Regions from separate parts of the Homo sapiens genome. Here region 1 is linked to region 2. The links come from fine-mapping of genetic effects on gene expression. Tissue or cell type: whole blood. Region 2 holds a variant in brackets; the other region holds the start of a gene. All regions are shown on one strand. Distances are between the middles of the regions.

Region 1 (5,000 bases), 24 kb after region 2:
GAGACGGAGTCTGGCTCTGCCACCCTGCCACCCAGGCTGAAGTACAGTGGTGTGATCTAGGCTCACTGCAACCTCTGCCTCCAGGGTTCAAGTGATTCTCCTGCCTTGGCCTCCTGAGTAGCTGGGATTACAGGCATGCACCACCATGCCCAGCTATTTATTTTTTTTAGTAGAGATGGGGTTTCAAAATGTTGGCCAGGCTGGTCTTGAACTCCTGACCTCAAGTGATCCGCCCACCTCAGCCTCCCAAAGTGCTGGGATTACAGCTGTGAGCCACCGCGCCCAGCCCTGGCCTCTTTTTTTAAGTTATTTATTTATTTTTGAGACAGAGTCTCACTCTGTCGCCCAGGCTGTGGTGCAGTGGCATGGTCTTGGTTCACTGCAACCTCTGCCTCCTGGGTTCAAGTGATTCTCCTGCCTCAGCCTCTGGAGTAGGTGGGATTACAGGCACCCGCCACCATACCTGGCTAATTTTCTTTTTTTTTTTTTGAGACAAAGTCTTGCTCTTGTCCCCCAGTCTGGAGTGCAATGGCACGATCTCGGCTCACTGCAACCTCCGCTTCCCAGGTTCATGCAATTCTCCTGCCTCAGCCTCCCGAGTAGCTGGGATTACAGGCACATACCACCACGCCCAGCTAGTTTTTCGTATTTTAAGTAGAGACAGGGTTTCACCATGTTGGCCAGGCTGGTCTCAAACTCCTGACCTCAGGTGATCTGTCTGCCTCGGCCTCCCAAAGTGCTGTGATTACAGGCATGAGCCACCGCACCCGGCTGACTAATTTTTGTATTTATAGTAGAGACAGGGTTTCACCATGTTGGCCAGGCTGGTCTCGAACTGCTGACCTCATGATCTGCCCGCCTCGGCCTCCCAAAGTGCTGGGATTACAGGCGTGAGCCACCGTGCCCGGCCAGTTTATTTACTTATTTTTAAGAGGCGGGCGTCTTGCTCTGTAACCCAGGCTGGAGTGCAGTGGTGCGATCATAGCTCACTGCAGCCTCCAACTCCCGGGCTCAAGTGATCCTCCTGCCTCAGCCTTCCAAGTAGGTGGGATTACAGGAACACACCACCATGCCTGGCTAATTTTTTGTAGTTTTTGTAGAGATGGGGGGGTCTCACTATGTTGCACAGGCGGGTCTCAAACTCCTGGGCTCAAGTGATCTTCCTGCCCTGGCTTCCCAAAGTGTTGGGATTACAGGCATGAGCCACCGCGCTCAGGCAAGGCAACTTCTGACAATATAATTGTGCTGTGAGCGAGGTAAAGCCAGGCTTGGAGAAGGCTCCGATTGATGATCCTTGGGTCGGGGCGAACAGTGGGTCCTCAAACAGGGCCCACGTTTCAAGTCCTGGAAAACCCACCTATCTTAGCGGGCAGGTATATCCGATGTCTCCGTTGAAGGCCTTCAGTGAGGTGGCTTCGTCTCTTGAGGTTTATGTCCAGGATCAGGGCTGCTCTTCCACTCGGGGTCACAACCTCTGGCTCACCACCTTGTCAGGAGCCAGCCCACTAAGTCACGTTTCAGGCCTGAAAACCAACAACAAAAGATCCGTAAAGACAGAAATCCTGGGACTGGCTCCTAACAACGGCCAGTGACAAGCTTTGTGGCAGTGAGCAGAGGTGTCCCTCAGGCTCAGCTCAGTCTCTGTGGGTTGCAGGACCTGCCCTTGGAGGTGGGCCTGGGTGGGAGGTCTTAGGGCCCCAGGACCTGGGCCACCTGGGGCTTTTTTTTTTTTTTTCTTTTTGAGATGGAGTCTTGCTCTGTCGCCCAGACTGGAGTGCAGTGGTGCAATCTTGGCTCACTGCAAGCTCCACCTCCTGGGTTCAAGCGATTCTCCTGCCTCAGCTTCCTAAGTAGCTCGGATTACAGGCGCCCACCATCATGCACGGCTAATTTTTGTATTTTTAGTAGAGGCGGGGTTTCACCATGTTGGTCAGGCTGGTCTCAAACTCCTCACCTTGTGATCTGCCCACCTCGGCCTCCCAAAGTGCTGGGATTACAGGCATGAGCCACCGCGCCCAGCCCACCTGGGGCATTTTTGTTGCTGTACAATAGAAACAAGTTCTCTATATGTTCCCCAGGCTGGTCCAAACTCCTGGGCTCAAGTGATCCTCCCACCTAGACCTCCCAAAGTGCTGGGATTTCAGGCATGAGCCGCAGTGGCCGGTCAGAACCTGGGGCCCTTTTGAACTTTGATTCCTCAGCAATTTTGTCAGCCCTGGCTCGGGCTGAGAAGCCCCTGTGAAGCCAGAGAGGGAAAGGGACCTGTCCAGGGTCACACAGGAATCATGCGTCAAGCCTCCCCAGCCACGGACTTGTCTCCATCCAGGGCATTTCAGCCCCTGCAGGGCAGTGGCCTGCCCCTCCTCCTTGGAGCCAGGAAGGGATGCAGTGCCACAGGGATCTGGCTCTGTCCCAGGCCCTGTGGGGCTGGCAGTTGAGTAAGCAGTCAGGCTGGGCGCACCCATCCCTCCCCCACTCCCCACTGCCCAGCACAGTGCATTCATGCAGCTGGGCCCCACCCCATCTCCAGAGGCACCTTCCACTAGCAACAGTCTCCCCAGGCACAACACAGCTAACACAAGGCCCCGCAGGCAGGACTCTGGGACAGACGCAGGCCAGGTGAGCATCTGAACAAGGGGCAGTCGGCCAGGGTGGGCTTGCGGGAGTCCCCACCTTGACCTCTCTCCCTTCCAGCTGCCCAGAGCCCAGACCAAGCATGGACGCCGTGGATGCCACCATGGAGAAACTCCGGGCACAGTGCCTGTCCCGCGGGGCCTCGGGCATCCAGGGCCTGGCCAGGTGAGCTGTCCCCTCTCACCTTCCTGACCCCGGCCCCTGAGACCACTGTTCCAACCGTGTCCCCTGCCTCCAGGTTTTTCCGCCAACTAGACCGGGACGGGAGCAGATCCCTGGACGCTGATGAGTTCCGGCAGGGTCTGGCCAAACTCGGGCTGGTGCTGGACCAGGCGGAGGCAGAGGGTGTGTGCAGGAAGTGGGACCGCAATGGCAGCGGGACGCTGGATCTGGAGGAGTTCCTTCGGGCGCTGCGGGTGAGCCCCCACCTCACAGTCAAGGCGTGTGCCCTGGGCATGGGGCGACAGAGGATGCTGAGATGCGGAGACGGGGACTCCTCCCTAAGAGCTGCTGTTAAGAGGCGCCTGCTGGGGCATACAGCCCCAGTGCTCTGCACAGCGTCTTGGGGGTTTGGGTGTGCTACCCACCACCCCCAGTCACCACCTCCTGTCCCAGCCCCCCATGTCCCAGGCCCGGGAGGCTGTCATCGCAGCTGCATTTGCCAAGCTGGACCGCAGTGGGGACGGCGTCGTGACGGTGGACGACCTCCGCGGGGTGTACAGTGGCCGTGCCCACCCCAAGGTGCGCAGTGGGGAGTGGACCGAGGACGAGGTGCTGCGCCGCTTCCTGGACAACTTCGACTCCTCTGAGAAGGACGGGCAGGTGGGTGGCTGCGCGGGGGGCCCCCTCCCCAGGCAGTTCCTCGGCCGTGCCCCCTCACGGCCCTCTGTTCCCAGGTCACACTGGCGGAATTCCAGGACTACTACAGCGGCGTGAGTGCCTCCATGAACACGGATGAGGAGTTCGTGGCCATGATGACCAGTGCCTGGCAGCTGTGAGCAGCTCCGGCTCAGCCCTGCTGCCCTGGCCTGTCACTCCCCACCCCTGCCGGAGACCTCCCTTCCCTGGGCCCCTTCTCTCCTGGGCAGCCACACCACAGAGCGGGGAGGGGCAGGTGGGGGAATGGAGGCTGCAGGACTGGCTAGACCAGGTCCCTGCCGGTCCACCAGGCGGAGGTGGGACAAAGGTCCTAACAGGAGTCACTGGCTCAGGACCCCAGGGAGAAACGCTCTCCCCACCCACGCCATGCTGACCAGAGATCTTGCAGCCCCTGTGGATGCCCCCGCCGAGGTCCCCCGATCCCCGCACCCGGACTGCTGCTCCCTGCCCCTCCCTTGCGGGTCCCCCAGGAAGCCAGGTGACCCCAGGTGGGAGGCTGTGTGTGGAGGCCATCCTGGAAGGAAGTTTAGACCTGCCCAGGTGTGGAGCGAGGGGCACAGGGGCATCCTAACCTCAGAAACTGAAATAAAGCCTTTGAAAAAAAAATCTGTAAAACATCAACCCCCAATCAGAAGATGGCAAATGGGGAATAAAAATAGCAGGTAACATGTCCAGCGGGCCCAGTATCTACATTCTGGTGAGCGGCCCGAGGCTGGGAGCTCTGGGCGGGGGCAGACCGGCGGGGCCTTGCAGCAGGGGTGGGGGTAAAGTGCGGGTGGTGGTGGAGAGAACAGGGCTGTGGCTGGACCCCAGCACTGGTGACACGCTGGGTGGGAGCATGAGGCCCCAGGCTGCTGGAGGTCCTCGCCCGGGGAGGTGGAGGCCGTTCCTGGTCAGGGGCTTCCTGAGGCCCCTGGGGCATGCAGAGGCCAGGGTTTTAGTTAAAAGTTTAATGTAGTTCCCAAATACATTTCATATGACAATCTTACATAAATGTTCCAAAACACATGGGCGTTATCTCGTTGTACTCGTCACTAGCTGGCTAAGGCTTAAAGCAGAGACGTGTGACTGGGTCTCTCGGGAGGGCCTCTGGTTCTTCCCGGGCTCAGGCTTGCTGGGGGCTGGGGGCCAGGGCTCTGGCGACCTAGAGGTGTGGACGGCACAGCTGCAGGAGGCCTTCTCTTAACCCTCCGAGAGTGGGACTGGGAGATTTCCTCTGAAGTCCCAAAGAGGCCCTGTGCCCAGGGGACCTCCTCCTCGGCCTCCCAGGTGGGTGGTGCAAGCTGGCTCTTGGCCATGCTCCAGGCTCGGGTGGGCACAGGCGTCCACTCCAGTGTGCTGCGTGCTTGTGAGACTGCCTGTTCTGGGACCAGCCCCTGGGCTCTTCCACCAAGATTTGGTGAGGGTCCCCCTCTGCCTCTCACAGAAGCCCCTGGCCCTGGACTGTCCTGGGGGCAGGGACACCTGTGGCTGGGGAAGGGATGGCC
Region 2 (10,692 bases):
AGTAGAGATGGGGTTTCACCACATTGGCCAGGTTGGTCTCAAACTCCTGAGCTCAGGTGATCTGCCCACCTTGGCCTCCCAAAGTGCTGGGATTACAGGCGTGAGCCACCACATCCAGCCAAAAATGACATTTATTACAATTTCTTGGCTGGGCTCGGTGGCTCATGCCTGTAATCCCAGCACTTTGGGAGGCCGAGGCAGGCGGATCACAAGGTCAGGAGATCGAGACCATCCTGGCTAACACGGTGAAACCCCGTCTCTACTAAAAATACAAAAAATTAGCTGGGCGTGGTGGAGGCACCTGTAGTCCCAGCTACTCGGGAGGCTGAGGCAGGACGATGGTGTGAACAGGGAAGGCGGAGCTTGCAGTGAGCCAAGATTGTGCCACTGCACTCCAGCCTGGGTGACAGAGTGAGACTCCGTCTCAAAAAAAAAAAAAAAAATTTCTTCATTGCTGCCCGGTGTATAGTAGCAGAAGACTGGAGGCCAGGACATGTGCTTTCACCAGAACAATGGTCCAGCCTCAAGATGGAATATTACACTGTCCTTACAAAAGAGGGGGAAGTTCTGCACTCGAAGAAAAGATCCGAGATGCATTGTTAGGAGTCAACTACGCTGAGCTGCAAGAAAGTACGGGGAGTGTGATGTTGTTTCCGTGGGGAAAAGAAAATATACAGACATGCTTGTTTTGGCGTGGAACATGGCTGGAAGGAGAAACAAGAAACCGACTAATGGCCTCTGGGGATGGCGTGGGGCTTGGGGAGTGGCTGGTATTTATTCTAAACACCCTCTAGAATCTTTTGAATTCTATGGCATGCGTCTGTCTTACCTCTAAAAGAAGGAGGATAAACTGTAAAATGCATTTTAGAAAGCATACTGAGAAAGGCCGGGCGCGGTGGCTCATGCCTGTAATCCCAGCACTTTGGGAGGCCGAGGCCGGAGGATCATGAGGTCAGGAGATCAAGACCATCCTGGCTAACACAGTGAAACCCCGTCTCTACTAAAAATACAAAAAAATTGGCCGGGCTTGGTGCGGGCGCCTGTAGTCCCACCTACTCGGGAGGCTGAAGCAGGAGAATGGCGTGAACCCGGGAGGCAAAGCTTGCAGTGAGCCGAGATGGCGCCACTGCACTCCAGCCTGGGCGACAGAGCGAGACTCCGTCTCAAAAAAAAAAAAGTGCTGAGAAAAAAAAAATGGACAAAATAGAAGACTTTGGATGGGTTTGAAAAGGCTGGGGTGGCAGGGGTGGTGGCTCTAGATTTCAGGCCAGGCCATCGCTCTGCCTGCTGCCCCTCAGTTTGGGCTGAATCCCCCACCAGGCCCCCCAACGAGGCCCCCCAGAGCCCTGCTCTTGTCCTGGCTCACACCTTTCCTACTCTGGTTCAGCGAGGGTTCAGACCAGTGGGGACCCCTGGAAGGTGAGATGTGGGCTGGGCTGGGGCCAGGGACAGGGCCAGGCCTGCCGGAGCCCCTTGCAGCTCGGCCCGACCACCCAGCTTTCCAGGAAGCCCGAGGGGAGGCTTGGCTGGCTCAGAGGAAGGACCTGTGTGCGCCAATGGTGGGGCTGGGGGCCAAACCAGGCCCCTCTGAGCGCCCACGCTCTGAGGAGGACCACAGCAAGTGGAGGGAGGCTGGCTAGAAAAGAGATACACAGGGAGGAAGGCCCGAGCTTCCCTATGCCTCAGTTTCCCCATAGGCCAAATGGCTCGCTGGCTGTGTGGCCCTTGTGGACACAGGGGATGCCTGAGATGATGTGGGACCAGGGAACTATGGCTCCACTGGGTCCTAGCCTTGGACGCCAAGCCAGATAGGATAAGGGGGGGCAAGTCCCGCCCTGACTTCTGGAGCCCTGAAGTAATGACTAACCCGGCTTTAGGCTTTAAGGCTGGGGCCTCCTACCAGAACACAGCCAGGAGAGAGTCACGTCCTCTTTCCTAAGATCTCTACCCCTGTCTACTCCCTCTTCCTCCCTCTGTGCTCTGCTGGGGACCCTGTGGGTACAGGGATGTGGCACCCCCAAGGCATTCAGGGCTCTGGGCCTCTCTTTTTTTAGAGACAGGGTCTCGCTCTGTCACCCAGGCTGGAGTGCGGTGGCAGGATCATAGCTTACTGCAGCCTCGAACTCCTGGGCTCAAGCGATTCTCCTACCTTAGCCTCCTAAGTAGCTGGGACTACAGGTGTGTACCACCATGCCTGGCTCCAGCCCCCTTTTTGGCTCTTTTGGGGGTACCCTAGTGGGCCAGTGTTGGTCCCAGGGGTCTTTGTCAGGACAAGGGAAATGTTTGGCCCAGAAGTGCCTGTCTATGGTTTAAGCAAGATCTGCAGCTGGCCACAGTGACTCCCGCCTGTAATCCCAGCACTTTGGGAGGCTGAAGCAGGAGGGTCACTTGAGGCCGGGAGTTCAAGACCAGCCTGGACAACACAGTGAGACTCCATCTCTACAAAAAATTTAGAAATTAGCCAGGTGTGTTGGTGCATGCCTGTAGTCCCAGCTTCTTGGAAGCTGAGGCAGAAGAATCGTTTGAGCCCAGGAGTTTGAGGTTGCAGTAAGCTATGATCTCACCACTGCACTCCAATCTGGGCAACAGGGCAAGACCTTGTCTTCTTCTTATTTTTTGAGATGGAGTTTTGCTCTTGTCACTCAGGCTGGAGTGCAGTGGCTCGATCTCAGCTCACTGCAACCTCCACCTCCTGGGTTCAAGTGTTTCTCCTGCCTTAGTCTCCTGAGTAGCTGGTATTACAGGCTCACACCACGATGCCTAGCTGATTTTCATTTATTTATTTATTTATTTTGTTTATTTTTTTTTGGAGATGGAGTCTTGCTCTATCACTCAGGCTGGAGTGCAGTGACGCAATCTCGGCTCACTGCAACCTCCGCCTCTCAGGTTCAAGCGATTCTCATGTCTCAGCCTCCCAAGTAGCTGGGATTACAGGCACCTGCCACCACGCCTAATTTTTGCATTTTTAGTAGAGACCGGGTTTTGCCATGTTGGCCAGGCTGGTCTCGAACTCCTGGCCTCAAGTGATCTGCCAATCTCAGCCTCCCAAAGTGCTGAGATTACAGGTGTCAGCCACTGCGCCTGGCTAAGACCCTGTCTTTCTTTTTCTTTCTCTTTTTTTTTTGAGATGGAGTCTCACTCTGTGGCCCAGGCTGGAGCGCAGTGGCGCGATCTCGGCTCACTGCAAGCTCCGCCTCCCAGGTTCACGCCATTCTCTCGCCTCAGCCTCCCGAGCAGCTGGAACTACAGGCGCCCGCCACCACACCCCGCTGAATTTTTTTTGTATTTTTTAGTAGAGACAGGGTTTTTCTCCATGCTAGCCAGGATGGTCTCGATCTCCTGACCTCGTGATCCGCCCACCTCGGCCTCCCAAAGTACTGGGATTACAGGCGTGAGCCACCACGCCCGGCCAAGACCCTTTCTTAAAAAAAAAAAAAAAAAATACACACACACACACACAGTAGTTGCTTCATGATGGGTGTATGTTTGGAGAAATTCGTCATTAGATGATTTTGTCATGCACAAACATCCCAGCGTACACACGCCTAGATGGTAGAACGTACTGCACACCAGGCTTCATGGTACTGTCTACTGCTCCCAGGCTATAAACCTGCAGAGCATGTGACTGTACAGAATACTGTGGGCAACTGTAACATGATGACAAATATTTGTCTCTAAACATCCACAAACAGAAAAGGTACAATAAAAATATGGTATAAAATCTTATGGGAGCCGGGTGCGGTGGCTCACACTTGTATTCCCAGCACTTTGGGAGGCCGAGGCGGGCAGATCACTTAAGGTCAGGAGTTTGAGACCAGCCTGGCCAACTTGATGAAACCCCATCTCTACTACAAATACAAAAGAATTAGGCGGATGTGGTGGCGGGAGCCTGTAATCCCAGCTACTCGGGAGGCTGAGGCAGAGAATTGCTTGAACCCAGGAGGTGGAGGTTGCAGTGAGCCGAGATCTCCCCACTGCACTCCAACCTGAGTGACAGAGTGAAACTCCATCTCAGAAAAAAAAAACAAAAACAGGCCGGGCGCAGTGGCTCATGCCTGTAATCCCAGCACTTTGGGAGGCCGAGGCGGGCGGATCACGAGGTCAGGAGATTGAGACCATCCTGGCTAACACGGTGAAACCCGGTCTCTACTAAAAATACAAAAAAATTAGCCGGGCGTGGCAGTGGGCGCCTGTAGTCCCAGCTACTCAGGAGGCTGAGGCAGGAGAATGGCGTCAACCTGGGAGGCGGAGCTTGCAGTGAGCCACTGCACTCCAGCCTGGGTGACAATGTGAGAGAGCAAGACTCTGTCTCAAAAAACCAAACTAAACAAAAAAAAAGAAAAGAAAAAAAAAGAAACAAAAACAAAAACAAAAAACAACAAATTAACTGAGTGTGGTGGTGGGCACCTGTAATCCCAGATACTCGGGAGGCTGAGGCTGGAGAATCGCTTGAACCCCTAGGCGGCAGAGACTCAGTGTCAAAAAAAAAAAAAAAAAAAAAGTCTCATGGGACTCCCTTCACATATGTGGTCCGTCAGTGACCGAAATGCTGTTATACTGCACATGACTGTTTGCTGAATGAACTCTGAGTCTTGCCCCCGGGTCTGGAGGGCTTCTCTTCCCGTGCCTTCCCGCACTCCACTGCAGCCATCATCTCATGTGGGGAGAGTGAGAAGGACCCTGATCCCCCTCCGAGAGCCTATACCACCCAGGCAGCAAAGCAGGGCCAGGCAGGGTGCACAGCCACCCCCAAGTGGTTCTCAGGCCCCACCTCTGGACCTCCTACCCTTTGCAGACCTGGAGATTCATTCATTTGTTTATCCATTCATTCATTCCACACATAGTTCTGGAGCCCTGCTGCGTTCCTCGGCTGGGTGCCGGGGTGTAGGCAGAGGATATAACAGCCAGGATACGTCCCAGTCCTCAAGGAGGTGCACATAAATAACACACGTGATGGTGACGTGGGACTTAGAAACTGGCAGGGGCTACGGGCAAAACTAGAAGGCAAATGAGTGTGGAGTGCTGGTGGCCTGGGGACGGGGGATGAGGAGGTGGCTTGTGAGCTGAGAATTGAAGGAGGTGAGGGGTGAGCTTGGGGACATCTAGGGGACAGGCATTGCAGGCAGAGGGTATGGACTATGCAAAGGCCCTAGGGCAGGACTGTGCCAGGGGTTTTGGAGGAAGAGTGAGGAGGCTGGTGGGGCTGGAGCAGTGAAGAGGGGAGGGGAGGAGAGGGAGGGGAGGGAGAGGAGGGGTCGGGACACACAGGGCATAGTGGGCTGTAGAGAGGATTTGGGCTTTTCCCCCAAGTGGGGTGGGAGCCATGGAGGACTGTGGGCAGGGGAGGGGCGGGACCTGACTTAGGGGCTCACAGGCGCCTTCTGGCTCAGGGGGTAGCCGGGTGACCAGGGCAGAGGGGACTACGCTTGTCGTGATGATGGAATCAGACTAGAGGCAGATCTGGGACAGATTCTGAAGGCAAAGGGGCTCGAGATGCGGGGAGGGCGGGAGCAGCTCTTCAGTCCCAGGAGGGGCACACATCAGCCCCGTGGGGTCTTCTCAGCTGTGTCCCACCCCAATCATGTCAAACACATTTATAGGAGCCCACAGCCCACACTCAACACAAGTTTAAAGGAGTACAGTTGTGCTCAAGTTGGCAGCGAAAACACCTTCCTTTCTCAGTGAGGTATTTTCTTTTTTTTTTTTTTTGAGACGGAGTCTCACTCTGTCGCCCAAGCTGGAGTGCAGTGGCGTGATCTTGGCTCACTGCAAGCTCCGCCTCCCGGGTTCACGCCATTCTCGTGCCTCAGCCTCCCGAGTAGCTGGGACTACAGACGCCCGCCACCATGCCAGACTGTTTTTGTATTCTTAGTAGAGACAGGGTTTCACCGTGTTAGTCAGGATGGTCTCAATCTCCTGACCTTGTGATCCGCCCGCCTCGGCCTCCCAAAGTGCTGGGATTACAGGCGTGAGCCACCGCGCCCAGCCCTTAGTGGGGTGTTTTCGCTCCAATCTCCAAGACCACTAAGAAAGTCTTAAAGGAACAAATTGCCATTTTCCAAACAATAGCTATTCTTAGGAGAAGTAACACTTCTTTTAGCTACTGCCAGGCCCTGGGAAGTCACCTCCCGGGCCTCAGTTTCCTCATCTGTAAAA[T/C]AGGACTAATGCCTAACAGAGCTCACGCACGGCTGCGCAGACTAAAATGAGCCAAAAATAATAATAACAACTGCACCTGCCTGGCAGGTGGGAAAAGCTTGATGTTCCCCACCCCCACCCCCCTTTTTTTTGTCTTGTGAATGTTTTCTTGGCTCACCCAAGAGCTTAGAGACCCCCGGCGGCGGGGCCTGGGTCAGCGCCAGCCCAGGCCAGCGTTATTTATTTATTTATTTTTGATACAAAGTCTCGCTCACTGTCTCCCAGGCTGGAGTACAGTGACATGATCTCGGCTCACTGCAACCTCCACCTCCCAGGTTCAAGGGATTCTCATGCCTCAGCCTCCCAAGTAGCTGGGATTACAGGTGCCTGCCACCACACCTGGCTTATTTTTGTATAGTAGAGACAGGGTTTCACTGTGTTGGCCAGGGTGGTCTGAAACTCCTGACCTCAAGTGATCCCCCAGCCTCGGCCTCCCAAAGTACTGGGATTACAGGCCTGAGCCACGGCGCAGGGCCAGGCCGGTGTTCTTGGAGCCTTGTCTCTGCTGGGGATGTGTCTCCAGGGATGGATTCTCGGGAAGCAAGTGTGTGCCCTGCAGCCCCCAGGCACCTCTCCTGGACCAGGAGGCCCCTGATCGCCCACTGCTCTCCCTCACAGCAGGCCTCTGCTGTTGCTGTGTGCTCTGCCTGGACCAGCCTCCCGCTGGGTACACATGGAAAAGCCTCTTCATCCTTGGGCCCTCTCTGCTGTGCCGCCTCCTCCTCTAGGAAGCCCTCCTAGCTCCCCAGGGAGGCTCTGCCCCTCCTCAGTTCCAGCCCTGACTGCCTGGGGCTGGGAAGGGCTCCATGAAGTTCAAGGTAAACTCAGGAAGGGTCCCCCACAGCCCCTCAGGGAGCCTGCTGGGACCGATGTTCCAGACGGGGGCCCTCTTGTGTGTGGGGTGGGAGTGACGTCAGCCCTCCACAACCTAGTAAATGTTTATGGGCCGGGGGGCCTCGGCTTTGGGGTTCCCTGGAGCCCAGCAAGAGACCACCCCCTCGTGTTCCATTCTGGGGGGCCCGTCCTGCAGGCGAGGTGGGGGCGCCTGGCAGGCCTGCGCCAACCCTGGCGGCTAGCCCGGAATGGGCTGGGTGGGCGGCGAGCACAGCTCCTGGTCTGAGCCGTCGGCTCCCTTGAACACAGGGAGGCACCTGGGGCTGGGAGGTGCGAAGGGGCGTGCGGCCTTTAAATTTCAAGCTCCACTACCCAGGGTGGGCCTCAGCGCGCGCATCCGTGGAAGAGGGCTAAGAGATCTGGTACAGGGTTTGGGCCGCACACGGGCCTGGAGGGCCGGGGAAGGGCTTGCAGGGGGCGGAGGCCTGCGTGGAACCAGTCCCAGAAGCGGCCATGGTGCAGGGCTGAGGGTGACCGTCGTGGGGACGTGGACTAGTCTTTCCTCCTGTCCAGCCTTCGGTGTCCTTGGCTGGAGGTTTGGGGCTGTATTGCCCATTCCTAGAAGCCATCACTTCCCGGCTGCGGTGGGCAGGATGCATGGGAAGGAAGGGGGATGAGGGACAGACAAGGCCTGGAGTGCGGAGGAAGGGATGGAATCTGACGCCTGTGGTCACCGCGGGGCTGGGGGCCTGGGGATGACCGCCCGGGTCCACACTGCCCAGCAGGCCGTGCTGTGGTGGGCGCTGCCCCCTGCCGGCCGCAGTAGAGACAGAGGCCGGTGCCCTCGAGTGGATGCGATGCCCGTGAGTGGATGGGATGCCTGCAGGGAGGTGGAATCGTCTTTCTTTGTGGGGCATCTCTGAGGGGCCCTTATTCCCATTTACCAGGTGGGAAAGCTGAGGCCTGGGTGCTGCCGTCCTCTGAGGACAGAACAAGGAAAGAATCAAGTTCTGGGGTTCGAACCCAGAGTGTTTAACAATGACTCTATTAGGGCTTGGACAGGTGTCAGGGCCCCTGCCCCTCTGGGTGCGGGGTGGGTGTGTCCGCCCTTTCTCAGGGAGCCCGAGGCCCGGGCACCCAGCTCCGGAAGTGGACGTGACCCTGAGCTGTTGCATGCCCCCCTTGTGCTGGAACACGCGTGGACATCTGTGCTCTCTCCAGAGAGGACTTCGAGGCAGGCGCTGGAAGAAGGGACCCAGAATCTCTGTACACAGTGGCTCATGCCTATAATCCCAGCACTCTGGGAGGCTGAGGTGTGAGGACTGCTCGAGGCCAGGAGTTTGAGACCAGCCTGCACAACACAGTGAGATCCTGTCTCTACAAAAAATAAAAATAAAAACAATTAGCTGGCTGTAGTGGTGCACACCTGCAGTCCCAGCTACCAGGGAGGCTGAGATGAGAGAGTCGCATAAGCCAGGAAGGTCAAGGTTCCAGTGAGCCATGATCCTGCCACTGCCCTCCAGCTTGAGAGACAGAGCAAGACTATGTCTCAAAAAGACGAATTTTTGGTAGAGACAGGGTCTCACTGCGTTGCCCAGGCTGGTTCCAAGCTCCTGGCCTCAAGCAATCCTCCCACCTCAACCTCCAAAAGTGCTGAGATTACAGGCTCAAACCACCAGGCCCAGCCTACAACATTTTTTAAAAAAATTAACCAGGCATAGTGGCGGTGGCCATAGTCCTGGCTACTCGGGAGGCTGAGGTGGGAGGATTGCTTGGGCCCGGGAGTTCCAGGCTGAGTTACTACTCGGGGGTGGACAGAGAAGGATATGAGGCTGAAAGTGAAGTTTGGCTTTTCACATCTAGGCCCCGCGGATGGGCTTGAGAAAAGGGAAGAGATGGGGCCGGATACGGGTCAGGAGGGCCATAGCCAGCCCTGCCGGTTCCTGCTGTCCCCGGCCCACCAGCAGGGCCCAGATCCATCCCAGCCAGGGCTGTGCACAGCTCCGCTCCCCTGGGTGGAGCCTGGAGCGCCCTAATTTGCAGCCCACCGCAGCATGTGGGAGCTTGCAGGCTTCCTCTCCAGCTGCCAGGGAGCATGAGCCAGTTCTGGAGAAGGGGCCCGGGGTGGTGCCAGCATTCCAGGGCCACCTAAATCACTGGCCTGACAGGTGGCAGGAAGGGATCGCAATTCTTTCCCTTGTCGCTGCCACCAGCCAGGTGCTGAGGGGGGTCCTGTCCCGCTCTGCCCTAGCCCCAGGGGCTGCGAGTGACCTGCCGGATGGGGACGGCTGCTGGACCAGCCTGTCCGGGGCTCTCCGCTCCAGTGCCCAGGAATTTGGAGACAGGGCCTGGGCGTGTTTTCCACATGTTGTTGGCTTTGGGGACAGGCCCAGAGAAAGGATGGCTCAAGATCTGCAGGGGGGTTGTGACCAGAGCCCACAGCGCTGAGGGAAGGGCTGTGGGCGGCAGGGCCCATTTTCCACTTGCTGGCAGGTCACTGGCACGCTCCTGCCCTGCCCTGGGAACTGGGGGAAGCAGAGGCTGGGGCGCATCCCAGCCGTCTCCCCTCCTGGGCTCCCGATGGCCCCAGCCTGATGCACTACCAGTTCTGTGGGGCCAGGCTGGTACCCTTGGCAGGGACGGCAGGCGGCAGGCAGGCGCGTGTGCAGGGGGCCTTATCTTATCTCCCTTCCTCACTCCCTCCCAGATCCGCCCTCACCGGCTGCTGTGTCGCCGTCATCAAGCCCTCCGGACACTGACACACACACAGACACAGAATTTATTTCTGGACGCATTCTGCAGGCTGGAGGTCCCGGCAGGCACAGGGCTCACACCTTGGGTTTTGCAAACACCTCCCAGCCCTCCAGCCGGCCCATCTTGACCAGGGAGGCCGCTATGCCAAAGTACACGCAGGCGGCGGCGCCAATCCCGTAGTTGTGCGCTGTGGGAGTGGGGAGGTGATGTCAGGCCCGGGTGGGGCTCGGCCGGACCAAGACGCTCCACGCCCTGGCCGGTGCCCACCCTGGGAGCCAGACTGAGACCCCTGACAGGACACTCTCTTCAGGGATTAAGTCACTCAGGAAGAGGGCCCTAGACTCTGGAGATGTGGAAACTGATGCACAGAGGGAGGCCGGAGTCCAGGTTGCTTCCCAGCAGGAACCCAGGCTGTGGGTCCTCATCCCGCCCCACACTGACTTCCCCCTGCGAGGACACCGTGCTGCCCCCAGCTGGGGCTGGGGCAAGGCTGGGCACCGGGCCATGGTGACACATCGGTGTGTCTCAGTCTCTCCTTTGCCCATGGATGCCAGGGCCAGGCCACGCATCTGTCCCGTGGTCTGTGTACCGAGGAGCCCCGACAGTGCCCCCACTTCTCCAGGCTCTCCTGCTCCGAAGCCTCCGGGCCAGAGGAGGAAGGAGGTGTGTCCCCACACACCAGGACCTAAAGGGACTCACACTCTTTGAAGAGAGACAGGGAGGCTGGCTTGGGGACAGGGAGCAGTTCCAGCCTGAGCTGGGCTACAGTCAAGACCTCAACCCACCTGCAACCTCTGACCAGTTCCAGTGGGAGCTGGGGAGGGACAAGGCCTCCCCAAGGTCTTGACGCAGAGACAGCAGTGACGGCGTACGCCCTGCCCTCGCACCCTCCCTCTCTGCCTGCCTGGA

Evidence for each region. PIP is the estimated chance that this variant, and not a neighbour inherited with it, causes the effect. A credible set is the group of variants that fine-mapping cannot tell apart.
Region 1: it holds the start of CAPS, and the variant in region 2 is the best candidate, but not a certain one, in a credible set for the expression of CAPS in whole blood (INTERVAL, PIP 0.82).

The regions. Positions count from the first base shown.
Region 1 is chr19:5,911,691-5,916,690 of GRCh38, forward strand. CAPS (calcyphosine) reads left to right here and starts at 2,564. Exons shown (of 5, transcript NM_004058.5): 1 at 2,564-2,619; 2 at 2,695-2,799; 3 at 2,873-3,050; 4 at 3,250-3,456; 5 at 3,531-4,521. The coding sequence starts at 2,717. The coding sequence ends at 3,632. It overlaps RANBP3 (RAN binding protein 3), which reads right to left. Exons shown (of 17, transcript NM_007322.3): 17 at 4,449-5,000.
Region 2 is chr19:5,884,885-5,895,576 of GRCh38, forward strand. NDUFA11 (NADH:ubiquinone oxidoreductase subunit A11) reads right to left here. Exons shown (of 4, transcript NM_175614.5): 4 at 9,791-9,970. The coding sequence ends at 9,858. Among named protein-coding and RNA genes, the nearest start is that of NDUFA11, 14 kb to the right of the region's middle. RefSeq lists an enhancer at 7,372-8,178 and silencers at 7,794-7,853, 8,420-8,620. The variant T/C (reference allele first, on the strand shown) is at 6,157.